Linked DNA regions of Homo sapiens: all the other regions are linked to region 3. The links come from fine-mapping of genetic effects on gene expression. A gene starts in region 3. Each other region holds a variant in brackets. All regions are shown on one strand. Distances are from middle to middle.

The links. PIP is the estimated chance that this variant, and not a neighbour inherited with it, causes the effect.
Region 1: its variant is the best candidate, but not a certain one, in a credible set for the expression of CTSH in fibroblasts (GTEx, PIP 0.88).
Region 2: its variant is the best candidate, but not a certain one, in a credible set for the expression of CTSH in skeletal muscle (GTEx, PIP 0.51).

Annotation. Positions count from the first base shown.
Region 1 is chr15:78,915,833-78,920,071 of GRCh38, reverse strand. No RefSeq gene overlaps it. Among named protein-coding and RNA genes, the nearest start is that of CTSH, 27 kb to the left of the region's middle. The variant G/A (reference allele first, on the strand shown) is at 2,275.
Region 2 is chr15:78,908,327-78,912,565 of GRCh38, reverse strand. No RefSeq gene overlaps it. Among named protein-coding and RNA genes, the nearest start is that of CTSH, 35 kb to the left of the region's middle. The variant A/G (reference allele first, on the strand shown) is at 1,631.
Region 3 is chr15:78,942,563-78,946,801 of GRCh38, reverse strand. It overlaps CTSH (cathepsin H), which reads left to right and starts at 1,756. Exons shown (of 12, transcript NM_004390.5): 1 at 1,756-1,911. The coding sequence starts at 1,821. RefSeq lists silencers at 1,554-1,903, 2,341-2,635 and enhancers at 1,486-2,024, 2,025-2,563, 3,024-3,073, 3,504-3,553.

The sequences.
Region 1 (4,239 bases), 27 kb after region 3:
AAAAAAATCAAAAACTCAGAAAAAATACACTATTTTTTGTTACTATTGCAACTTTACTATTGCAACAAAACCAGCAGCTAGGAATAACCACCAAAAAGTCTTATATGAAGAAAATTACTAAATTAATAACACTATAAAGGAAGACTTAGATAAATGGAGAGCCACCATATTCTTTTGTTGTTGTTGTTGAGACAGAGTCTCACACTGTTGCCCGGGCTGGAGTGCAATGGCATGATCTTGGCTCACTGCAACCTCCGCCTCCCGGGTTCACGTGATTCTCCTGCCTCAGCCACCCGAGTAGCTGGGATTACAGGTGCCCACCACCACACCTGGCTAGTGTTTTGTATTTTTAGTAGAGACGAGGTTTCACTATGTTGGCAGATTGGTCTCAAACTCCTGACCTCATGATCCACCTGCCTCGACCTCCCAAGGTGCTGGGATGACATGCATGAGCCACCATGCCCGGCCGAGGCACACCATATTCTTGAATGGAAAGATTAGCATAAATAAGTTGATTATTGCCAGAAATAAAAGTACAGATGGTATATTTCCAACTAAAATCCCAATAAAATTCTGTTATCCTTTTTATCTGGGGGAAAAAAGGCCAAGGTAGTTTTATAAATGAGCAATGAGGGTGGATTTTTTTCACATATTAAAATTTACAAAATGTTAACCCTTAAAACAGTGTGCCAATTAAGAATAGATTACTCACTCAGGTCTAGGAAGTAAGAATTCGATACATCCGTCACAGACGAGTCCATTTTCACCATTCAATTAAAGGTGCTAGAAGCTGGGTGCGGTGGCTCACGCCTGTAATCCCAGCACTTTGGGAGGCTAAGGCAGATGGATCACGAGGTCAGGAGTTCAAGACCAGCCTGGCCAACATAGTGAAATCCTGTCTCTACTAGAAATACAAAAATTAGCCGGGCATGGTGGCGGATGCCTATAATCCCAGCTACTCGAGAGGCTGAGGCAGGAGAATCACTTGAACCCGGCAGGCAGAGGTTGCAGTGAGTGGAGATCGCACCCCTGCACTCCAACCTGGGTGACAGAGCGAGACTCCGTCTCAAAAAAAAAATAGTGCTAGAAATTGAACAGTAGGTTGGAAAAACAATGTAACCTAAATCCTCACCCAGCTCTATATTGTTTTTAAAGTGAACATTTTCTTTTCTAACGGGTTTAGATATAGAATGACTGTGGAGACAGAGGAGAATTCTTGCACACCCACACCCAGATCTCTCTGCGATGAATGTAGTAGTTTGATACAAATGTCACAATTAATGATCCAATATAGAACATTATTAACCACATTCCAATTAAATACTCATTTAAAGGGAGGGTCCTGGGTGAGGTTCCAAAGAAATTCAAATTACCACAAAAATCAAATAACTGTTTTCAAAATTAGCCTCCCCTGAGGGATTTAGGTGCTCCGCAGGGATTGTGGGCTTGGGCTGGAACACAGACCTGAGACTTTGAAGCAGAGTTCTCCTTTCCATAAGAGCCCCGAATGTCTCAAACCCAGACAATGATGAGAGTCTTTTATTATAAAAAGGCCTGCAGGCCTGGTGTGGTGGCTCACGGCTTATAATCCCAGCACTTTGGGAGGCCAAGGTGGGCAGATCACCTGAGGTCAGGAGTTCGAGACCAGCATGGTGAAACCCTGTCTCTACTAAAAACACAAAAAAATTACCTTGGCGTGGTGGCACGCACCTGTAGTCCCAGCTACTTGGGAGGCTGAGGCAGGAGAATCGCTTGAACCCGGGAGGCAGAGGTTGCAGTGAGCCGAGATCGTGCCACTGCACTCCAGCCTGGCAAGAGAGCGAGACTCCATCTCAAAAAAAAGAGGGGGAGGGGGAGGGGGAGGGGGCGGGGGGGGGACTTTCAGGGGCCAATTCCCTCCTTTTCAGCCATTTACCAAACACCTGCAGAGTATCCACTGTGTGCAGTCCTCTCCTGTGCCAGGCACCAGGGAGCACACAGGATGTTTATAACATCCAGTGTTGGCAGGACTGTTGTGAAACAAGCAGCATGGCCTGTGCCTTGGTGCTGTTTGGATTTAAAGAGATCGGCAGACATGGCTACATCCAACTGAGATAAGTAAATTTCAAATGCACTTGAACCCTAAGGATGCTACAGAGCCTGGTACACAGCAGGTACTGCCTAATTGATCTCAGTCATCACCCCTGCCCCTACTCCATGACAGGCCCCGTGCGGACCTCTAGCAATCTCAGGCCCATGGACTATGTCTTTAACACTAAGGTGCTCCTGCACTTA[G/A]GGAAAAGATAGCAGAGTTTTAAAAAAACAAAAAACAGTTAAAGTCCAAAGGTTAAAAACAAAGACATCACAAGAAAAGAAAACTACAGAGCAATGTTCCTTATCAATACAGATGTGAAAATCCTCAATAAAATACTAGCAGACCAAATCCGGCAATATATAAAAAGAATTATATACCATCTCTACTAAAAATACAAAAGTTATTTACCATCTCTACTAAAAATACAAAAATTAGCTAGCCGTGGTGGTGTGCACCTGTAATCCCAGCTGCTCCAGAGGCTGAGGCAGGAGAACTGCTTGAACCCGGGAGGTGGAGGCTGCAGTGAGCCAAGATTGTGCCACTGCACTCCAGCCTGGGTAAAAAAAAAAAAAAAAAAAAAAAAAAGTATTACTATATGAACCCAGTAATTCCACTGCTAAGAGAATTGAAAACATGTACACACAGAAACTTGTACATGAATATTCCTAACAACATTATATATAATTGCCAAAATGGGGAAACAACCCAGATGTCTGTCAACTGACAGATAAAATATGATACATCCATACAAAGAAACATCCAGCCTAAGAAGGAAGTGCTGACACACACTACACCATGGATGAACGTTGGAAACATCAGGCCAAGTGAAAGAAGCCAGACGCAAAAGACTACACATTGTGTAATTCTGTCTATATGAGCCAGGCACAGTGGGCTCACACCTGTAATCACAGCACTTTTGGAGGCCAAGACAGGAGAAGTTCTTGAGGCCAGGAGTTGAAGACCGTCCTGGGCAACATGGCAAAACTTCATCTCTACAAAAAAATACTAAACAAACAAAAAATTAGCCGGGCATGATAGCAGAGCCTGTAGTCCCAGCTACTCAGGAGACTGAGAGGTGGGAGGATCACTTGAGCCCAGGAGGTCAAGGCTCCAGTGAGCCATGATTGCATCATTGCACTTCAGCCTGAGTGAAGAGCAATACTGTCTCAAAAAAAAGAAAAGAAAAGAAAGAAAAAAAAAAAGGCCAGGCAAGGTGGCTCACGCCTGTAATCCCAGCACTTTGGGAGGCCGAGGTGGGTGGATCACAAGGTCAGGAGATCGAGACCATCCTAACACGGTGAAACCCCATCTCTACTAAAAAATACAAAAAAATTAGCCGGGCACGGTGGCAGGCGCCTGTAGTCCCAGCTACTCCGGAGGCTGAGGCAGGAGAATGGCAGGAACCCGGGAGGCGGAGTTTGCAGTGAGCCGAGATCACGCCACTGCACTCCAGCCTGGGGACAGAGCAAGACTCCATCTCAAAAAAAAATAAAATAAAATAAAAATAAAAAAAAGAAAACGAAAAAAAGCAGAAGCCTGTGTACTCAAGACTTTAAAATTTCAAGACATGTTAATTGTGGGGGCTCAGGGCATGTCCCTACCATGGTCATTATTAGTGTGAGTGAACTAAGCATCTCCTCCCAAAACCATAGTGTCCGTGACAGGAAGCCCAGCTCCTGCCAGAATATCCAGTGGAAAGAATGCTAATGGAACACAACTTTTTGGAAGCAGACACACCTGGATTCCAATCTCAGTTCTCCCTTGAATTTTCTGTGTGACCTTGGCGGTAGTGGGGGTGTTAGTTACCCTCTCTGAGCCTCCATTTCATTGTCTACAAATTGATATAATCATATTTTCTTCGTGATTTTTAAAAGTTTTTTAATTTTTGTAGAGATGGGGTTTCACTATGTTGCCCAGGCTGGTCTCAAGCTCCTGGACTCAAGCGATCATACCGCCTCAGCCTCCCAAAGTGCTGGGATCACAGGCATTGAGCCACCGCGCTTGGCCGCCTTCACGATTTTGTGGACAGAATTGAGATGATTTATGGAAATACTCAGCGTCACATCTGGCTCTTAGTAAGCACTCATAAAAGAGAGTTATCTTTCACTCATTTGTCCAATAATCATGTATTAAACTGCGACACATGCCCAGCCCTGCCCTAGGAG
Region 2 (4,239 bases), 34 kb after region 3:
TCACTGAACTAATGAATGAAATCAGCAATCTTACTCTTAACTTCCTGTTACAACACAACTCCTGAGGTTTTTCCCCTAGCAACATCAAGAAATGCCAAGCTCATCTCAAAAGTTAAGCTGAATGGAAGGTTTACCTGGTTCCCACCAGCAGTCACTTAATTCAGTTACGGGTTTTGAACTCAGGATGAAATATAAACTTTTTTAAACAGACAATCATTATACATGTTTATGGGGTACAATGTGATGTTTCGATATATGTACGCATTGCAGAAAGATTAATCAAACTTACATATCCAACACCTCACCTACTTACCCTTTTTTGTGGTGAAAATGTTTAAAATCTAGTCTTCTGGCTATTTTGAAATGTATGGTCACCATACTGTGCAACAGATCTCTAAAATGTCTGAAACCAACATCTTTGACCAATATCTCCCTTTCCCTATATCTCCCCCTCCGACCTCTGCTAATCAACATTCTACTCTCTGCTTCTATGAGTTCAACTTTTTAAAATTCCACGTATAAGTGAAGATCATGCGGTACTTGTTTTCTGTGTCTGGCTTATTTCACTTAGCATAAAATCCTTCAGGTTCATCCCTGTTATCACAATGGCAGGATTTCCTTTTTAAAGGTTGTATAGCATTCCACTGTGTATATATACATTTTCTTTAGTAATTGTTCCTAGCATCCAAACAGCACTCAGAGTTTAGGTAAACACAAGAGTTTCAGCATGAGGCTGTATTAGCCTGGACTGACTTGGAGAGCGGGGCCAAAGGCAACTTGCATGAAGGACCACAGGGCCTCCTGGGAAACAGCAACCATGGGGGACAGAGGAGGAAGCATCCCACCAGCTGGTTAAGAATACTGAATCAGGGCTGCAGCCCTTGTGGTGACCCCGCCCAAGGGCACTCCTGGCCTGCCAAGCCCAAAGCCCCTGCGCCAGAAACCTAAGGAGAAGATGGTAAAACTGACAGAGTAGGCCAGGTACGGTGACTCACGCCTGTAATCCCAGCACTTTGCGAGGCCGAGGTGGGCAGATCACAAGGTCAGGAGTTCAAGACCAGCCTGAACAACATGGTGAAACCCCATCTCTACAAAAATACAAAAATTAGCCAGGCATGATGACGGGTACCAGTAATCCCAGCTACTCAGGAGGCTGAGACGAGAGAATTGCTTGAACCAGGGAGGCGGAGGTTGCAGTGAGCTGAGATTGCACCACTGCACTCCAGCCTGGGTGACAGAGTGAGACTCCGTCTCAAAAAAGAAAACTGACAGAGCAATTTCCCCTATGCTCCTGAGGGACTCTGAGAGCCTACAGAGATGCTGGTCTTTTGACTTCTATCAAAGGGCAAGAGAGAAGCCCTTCCTTCTTGCGAGTGAAGCAGGTTAATCAGCTCAGCTCAAACACTGGTGTTTTCTTGGTTTAACAGACACTTTTTATTGGCCAGGCACTGCACTAAGAAATATACAGCACACTAACTCCCCACAGCAACCCTGTGAGGTAGATACTATCATGATCCCCACTTTCACATGAGGAAGCCGAGGCACAGATTGGTTAAGCAACTTGCCCCAAACCACAAAATTGCTTAGTGGCAGAATCAGGGTTTATACCCGAGCCCTCCAGCTCCAGAGT[A/G]TCTGTTCTCAGCCTCCCTCTCTGCTGCCTCTCCAAAGAGGATGCAGAGTCCTTAGGATTCTTAAAAAGTCTGAAAGTGATTCAAAATGACTATGCTGTGAGGAGACCTGGCCCTGCCCGCCAGGCCCAGGGTGGTAACTGAGCTCCATCTACGTAACTCCATCTACGGCACTGCCCCATCTAAGGCCTGGTGGGTTCCCTCCTCCTGTCCACCTTGGTAAACAAGTCCTTTATCAAGCTCCCCTCACAGTACCCAGTAGACTGTGTTCTTTCTCAGGGAGCCTAGCCGATACAAGGGAGTAGCTGAAAGGTAATATTATGGGATGCTTTTTAAAAAATAGTTCTTGGCATATTTTTAAAACATTTTAAGGGAATTATGCAAATGTAGAGTGATAGAGTAAGTCTAGGCTAGAGACAGAGAACAGATTTTCATTATTATGGGAAAAATCATGTGACCAACTTCCCGTGGTTATGTGAATGTAAAGTCAGTGTGTGTTGTTCTAGGGGAATGCTATACACAAGATCTCCGGTTTGCTGTTTGTAGTTCAGCAAAGACGATCTCTCTCGGGATTCCAGGGTGCAAGGTGGACCAATTTGCACAGGAACCCAGAGATGAAATTGGGGACAGCCATTCGGGTGGTCTGGGATGCGCTGAAGCAGGCTCACGGCAGGAAAAGATCTTAAGGGGACTCCCTCAGAAGGGAGGGGAGGAGAGGAGGCTGGCCCCAGTTCAGGATCTAAAATTTCACAGAGGCCAGGTTCGCACAGTGGGTAGGCTGAGTGAAGCTGCTGCAGGATTGGAAACTCTGGTGGGTGTCCTACTGTGAGGGATGATGGCTGAACATGAGGTGGCCAAGAGAGGAGCAGCTTTAGGGCACTGGAGTAGGATGCCACCTCGGCCCTGTGAAGGTGGGCGGAATGGGCTGAGCCCATGGATTGTGGGGAAACCCTTACAACAGCGACACCTTATGGCCACTATGGTAACATAATGCGCACATCTAATTTTCTGGTCTCCCAGTATGGCTTCAGAAAGACTGGAATTCTTGGATAATGAAGAGAAGGGTGATCAAGGGGGAAGGATGAGATTCTCTGCCTATGGAAGTAAAGGCTTGCACAATCCTCTGGAAAAGTAAAAGTGCAAGAATGTGTCCCAAGTGGACACAGGTTGTACCAGGAACCTCCAGGGTCCCAGATCAGTCCACCCAGAGTGAGTCCTTGTGTCTCCGGCTCTGGGGTCAGAAAGGGCAGGTTGACTTAGTTCCTGAAGGAAACCATGTAGCCCTCACATATGTCACAAGCATAGAGGAAACGTGCTACCTTTATTGCTCAGGTTCACCAGGGAGCTTTGCAATGCTGAGACCATTCCTAGGCCCAGGACAATCTGCCATTAGCTCTGCCCATGGTAACTTTATGCCACAGAGCACCAGGTCAAGGACATACCAAACTTCCCTCTTCACACACAAACACACAAACACGCACACACTCAGAGGTTTGTCTAAACTTAATCACCCCTAGACACACCACCAGCAACCACCCAAACCCCTCCCCAGGACTGGAAGCATATCCCAGGCTCAGCTGCCCTTCTCTCTCTCCCCCAAGGCTGCATCACAAACGCACATGCTTCTGTTCTTCTGAAACCAACCATTCATCTCACATTTCTTCTTCCTCATTTTCAATTCTGATTTTCTTAATTGTTTCCAATATTCTAAATGTCAAGAAATAAATAAGTGTAAAGACTACTGCATGGTGGCTTGCACCTGTAGTGCCAGCTACTCAGGAGGCTGAGGCAGGAGAATGGTGTGAACCCAGGAGGCAGAGCTTGCAGTGAGCCGAGATTGCACCACTGCACTCCAGCCTGGGCGACAGAGTGAGACTCTGTCCCAAAAAAAAAAAAAAAAAAAAACCAGTACTTTCAACCACAGCCCTTAACTAGCCTGGCAGCTTCCATTTCTTATCTCTTTGAACCCTCACTATTGGAGTCCTGAGATACCATGTAATTTTGGAGTCCTGAGATACCAGCCTGAGGCTGGCAAGTCACAGTATGAGATGTGCAAACCATGCAGAGAAGCCCTCAGTGGTTGAGATGCTGTGTCGAGGAAAGAGGGGCCAAGGAACACAGAGGTACGAGATACATGAGTGAAGAAGCCATCTTGGAAGCAGATCCTCCACAATTTCAGCCACGGCAGCTAACGCCAAATGGATCAAAGATGAACTGCCCAACCAAGCCTATCCTGAATTCATGATTCAGAAAGGTATGAGCAAAACAAAATGGTTGTTTTAAGCTATAAAGTTCTGGGACAGTTTGTTAGCGCAGCAAAAGACAGCCAGAAATCAAATCTCATGTAAAGCTTTTCAAAAAAATCAAAACAATATAACCACAATTGTGTTTTAAAATAAAATGGTAATCCCAGCACTTTGGGAGGCGAAGGCAGGCGGATCACTTGAGGTCAGGAGTTCAAGACCAGCCTGGCCAACATGGTGAAACCCCGTCTCTACTAAAAATACAAAAAAATTAGCTGGGTTATGGTGGCACACACCTGTAATCCCCGCTACTCGGGAGGCTGAGGCAAGAGAATTGCTTGAACATGAGAGGTGGAGGTTGTGGTGAG
Region 3 (4,239 bases):
GCAAGCCCAGAGCAGAGAGCACTGCAGTAGGTCAAGGCTGGGTTCAGACACTCTCTGCGCACAGACTGGGAAAGTTACCATCTACTCTTGTGGCCTCAGTTTCCTCATCTGTAAAATGGGGGGTCAACAACATGCCACTTTGCAAGGTGATGATGTAAGTGAAGAACAGGGCATCACTGGGCATTTGAGGCTACGGCACAGGCTGGTCTGAATCACCCTCTCCTCACCCAAAGCAGTGACAGCACCGGCCTCCTCAGCCTGGAACGCACGTTCTTCTGTCTGTCTCACACCCAGACCCTTACATACCATCTTCTTTAGCTTTGCAAACTACAGAGAATGGCCCTACAGCTCTTAATGTAGCTTCCTCAGCAGAAAGACTAAAATGTCTGTTGAGGGGGCAAAACAATTCACAAGGAGGTCGTCTAGCTTCTTCAGTTGTAAGTCCACTCCAAGCAAAAGGGAAGCCAGGGAAATGTGGTTAACCAGGGCAGGGAGACGTGGGGAGTGTGGGGGAAAGTCTGAGGTGGAGACACACAGGGACATGGGGGGTATGAGGTGGGGACAGGCAGGGAGATGGGGGTGCAAGGTGGAGACACGCAGGGACATGAGGGGGTGTGAGGTGGGGACAGGCAGGAAGATGGGAGGTGCAAGGCGGGGACAGGCAGGGACATAGGGGTGTGAGGTGGGGAAATGCAGGAAGATGGGGGGATGTGAGGTGGGGACTGGCAGGGATATGGGGGTGTGAGGTGGGGACAGGCAGAGACATGGGGGTGTGAGGTGGGGACAGGCAGGGACATAGGGGTATGGTGGGGATAGGCAGGGAGATGGGGGGTGCGAGGTGGGGACAGGAAGGGACATAAGGCTGTGAGGTGGAGACAGGCAGGGACATGGGGGGTGTGAGGTGGGGACAGGCAGGGAGATGGGGGGTGCGAGGTGGGGACAAGCAGGGACATGGGGAGTGCGAGGTGGGGACAGGCAGGGACGTGGGGCGTGCGAGGTGGGGACAGGCAGGGACATAAGGGTGTGAGGTGGAGACAGGCAGGGACATGGGGAGTCTGAGGTGGGGACAGGCAGGGAGATGGGGGGTGTGAGTTGGGGACAGGCAGGGAGATGGGGGGGTGCGAGGTGGGGATAAGCAGGGACATGGGGGTGCGAGGTGGGGACAGGCAGGGACATGGGGGTGGGAGGTGGGGACAGGCAGGGACATAGGGGGTGGGAGGTGGGCACATTCAGGGAGATGGGGGTGTGAGGTGGAGACAGGCAGGGACATAGGGGGAGCGAGGTGGGGACAGGCAGGGAGATGGAGGGTGCAAGGTGAAGACAGGCAGGGACATGGTGTGAGGTGGGGACAGGAAGGGACATGAGGGGTGCGAGTTGGGGATAGGCAGGGAGATGGGGGGGTGCGAGGTGGGGACACGCAGGGAGATGGGGGACGTGGGGATGGCGACAGGCTGGGAGAGGGAGAGGCCAGGCTGAGACCTCCCCGCGCGGTGCCAGCCAGTCCAGGCAGATCCAGGACTCAGCCAGGCCTGATACCCAGATAAGCCCTTCCTCCCAGAGGAGATAAGGGAGCGACGCGGCCGGCCGACAGGTGAACTAGAGCTGGCGAGTTAGTCGGCGCCGCCCCCTCCCGCGAGCCCGGCCTCGGGGGAGTACCGCCCACCCCGCCCCGCGCTCGCTCCGCCCCGCGCTCGCTCCGCCCCTTCGCGCTCCCGCCGCTCCTCCACGCTCGTGCCGCTCCCCCCCCGCGCTCCCAGTTGACGCTCTGGGCCGCCACCTCCGCGGACCCTGAGCGCAAGAGCCAAGCCGCCAGCGCTGCGATGTGGGCCACGCTGCCGCTGCTCTGCGCCGGGGCCTGGCTCCTGGGAGTCCCCGTCTGCGGTGCCGCCGAACTGTGCGTGAACTCCTTAGGTACGCAGAGGGCGCGCCGCCCGAGAGGGTGCTAGCAGGCCCTAGAGTGGACGCTGGGAGAACTTGGCCAGGGGCGCACTGGGCTCCGGAGGAACGGGGCAGAGCTTTCCCCGGTGAGAGGCCAGGAACTCTGCGTGCTGGCACGGGGAGGGGTAAACTGCATTATAGGCGGGGGTTCTCGGAGGGTGGGCGGCTTGTAGGACCAGAGGAGCAGATGGGCTGAGTGTCCAGGGTCCCACCTAGCCAGGTGGCTCTCCAGCCTAGAATACCAAAGGAGCCCGCAGCTCCTTCCGCCTTCCTCAACTGGGGACACAGAGTGTCACACAGAGGACTCTGATCTGTCCCTGCCAGAGGTGAGCAAGGACGTCCCAGCCTTCTCTAGCAGCTTCCCCCGGGACTTGGCACACAGGGGATCCCCGTAGTGTCTTGGGAGTCCCATCTGTAGAGTAGGTTGGACGGGCTGTTTGGAACAGTGAATCCCTGTGCAACGGCACCAGGGAAAGCACTCAGACCAACAGCGCTTTTAACAGCACCCCAGGGCCCATGGCGTCAGGTGGAGCCCCAGGACTCCTCTTGTTGGCCAGATTGGCTGCGACTGGTCCAGCTTCGTGCTGCCCTTGCATCCTGTCTACTGCCCGGGCTCAGGCACCTCCCCTGGCTGAAGGCAAGGAGCCTGCTCTTCCCTACTGCCTCCCTCCTTTCCTACTGTCCCTGGTCCCAGCCTCAGCCCACAGGCTCTGAACTTAAAGACCACCTGCCCCCTTCACCGAGAAAAGTAGCCAAGAAACAACCCAAGGAGCCAAGAACCTAGGGAGGGGGGGTGCCCTGAGCTCTGGAGGAACGGGACAGGGCTTTCCCCCAGCTAGAGGCTCAGGGGATGGGACAGAGATCACTGAGGCTGAATCTGGGCCAGAGGGTTGCCTCATTCCTTCCCACCTATTTATTTAAAAAGCTCCCCAGCCTTGCAAACCTCAGTGGGCGCCCAGCTCCAGGTCAGTTCCCGCCTAAGGAAAACCTAGCTGCCGCAAGCGAGGGCTGCCTGGAGAAGGCTGGCGCTGAGAGGCTGTCTGAATTCCAGAGCAGGGCTTGGCAAACTTTTTCTGTGAAAGACCAGACGGTAAATAACTTAGGCTTTATGGTGGTCTCTGTAGCAACTACTAACTCTGCCATGGTAGTGTGATAGCAACCATAGATTGTATGTAAGTGAGTCAGTGTAACTGGGTTCTAATAAATGATTTTTATGGCCACTGAAATTTCAGTTTCAAGGGATTTTTGGGTGCTACGAAATATGTTTCTTCTAACCATTTAAAATTGTAAGAAACCGTTTGTAGCCCAGGAGCTGTACTAAAACAGGAGTCAGGGACCGGCTGCGGTGGCTCACACCTGTAATCTCAGCAATTTGGGAGACCGAGGCAGTCGGATCACTTTAGGTCAGGAGTTCGAGAGCAGCCTGGCCAACATGGTGAAACCCTGTCTCTACTAAAAATACAAAAATTAGCTGGGTGTGGTAGCCAGGTGCCTGTAATCCCAGGTACTCAGGAGGCTGGGGCAGGAGAATCGCTTGAAACTGAGAGGTGGCGATCACTCCAGCCTGGGTGACAGAGTAAGACTCCATCTAAAACAAACAAACAAACAAACAGGGGAATACTGTACTTTCCTGAAACCTGCTGTAAATCCAGGCAAGGTATTATGGCACTTTTAAAGTCCTGACTAGATTGGAATGGATCTATTTTAGGGTAAGGCACGGTTCACCAGCAGATTATTCTGGCCCCAGAATAATCTCTCCAGAGGCAAACTGGTAGTCAATTGTCCTAAACTCAAACCCTGCCTCCAACTCTTGTCCTGAGTTGAGGTCTGTCTTCCTCTAAAGCCCTCAGCTGCAGCAGGGCCCTTAATCAAGATCTGGAATCCCCTGAAACCCTAAAGGGAGCCATGTTGAGGAAATGTGCATTTTCCCCAGGGAAAACGGCCATAGATTGGTCTCTGGAACAGGTTCGAGACCCAAAAACGGAGATCTAAATGCTGTGTGGTAGTGATCTTCACACTGGAGGTATGGATCCTTGGGGAAACAGGAAGATATTTCAAGTGATGCCGGCAGAGAGTGTTCTGGAAATCCATTTACAGACCTTTTATTTCCAAGTGTCCTCTTTGCTAAAACTGGGAGAGAGCCCCTGAAGGCAAGGGGGAACCTCTTTCCTCTCATTCAATCTGAACCTGAACCCATGGGTATAAAAACAATAGGGACAGCAAACAAAAAGACAAAACGGTAATAAATCGTTCATATCTGGCATTCTCAATTCCTCAAGGAAACTGAATTGAAGAGGAGAG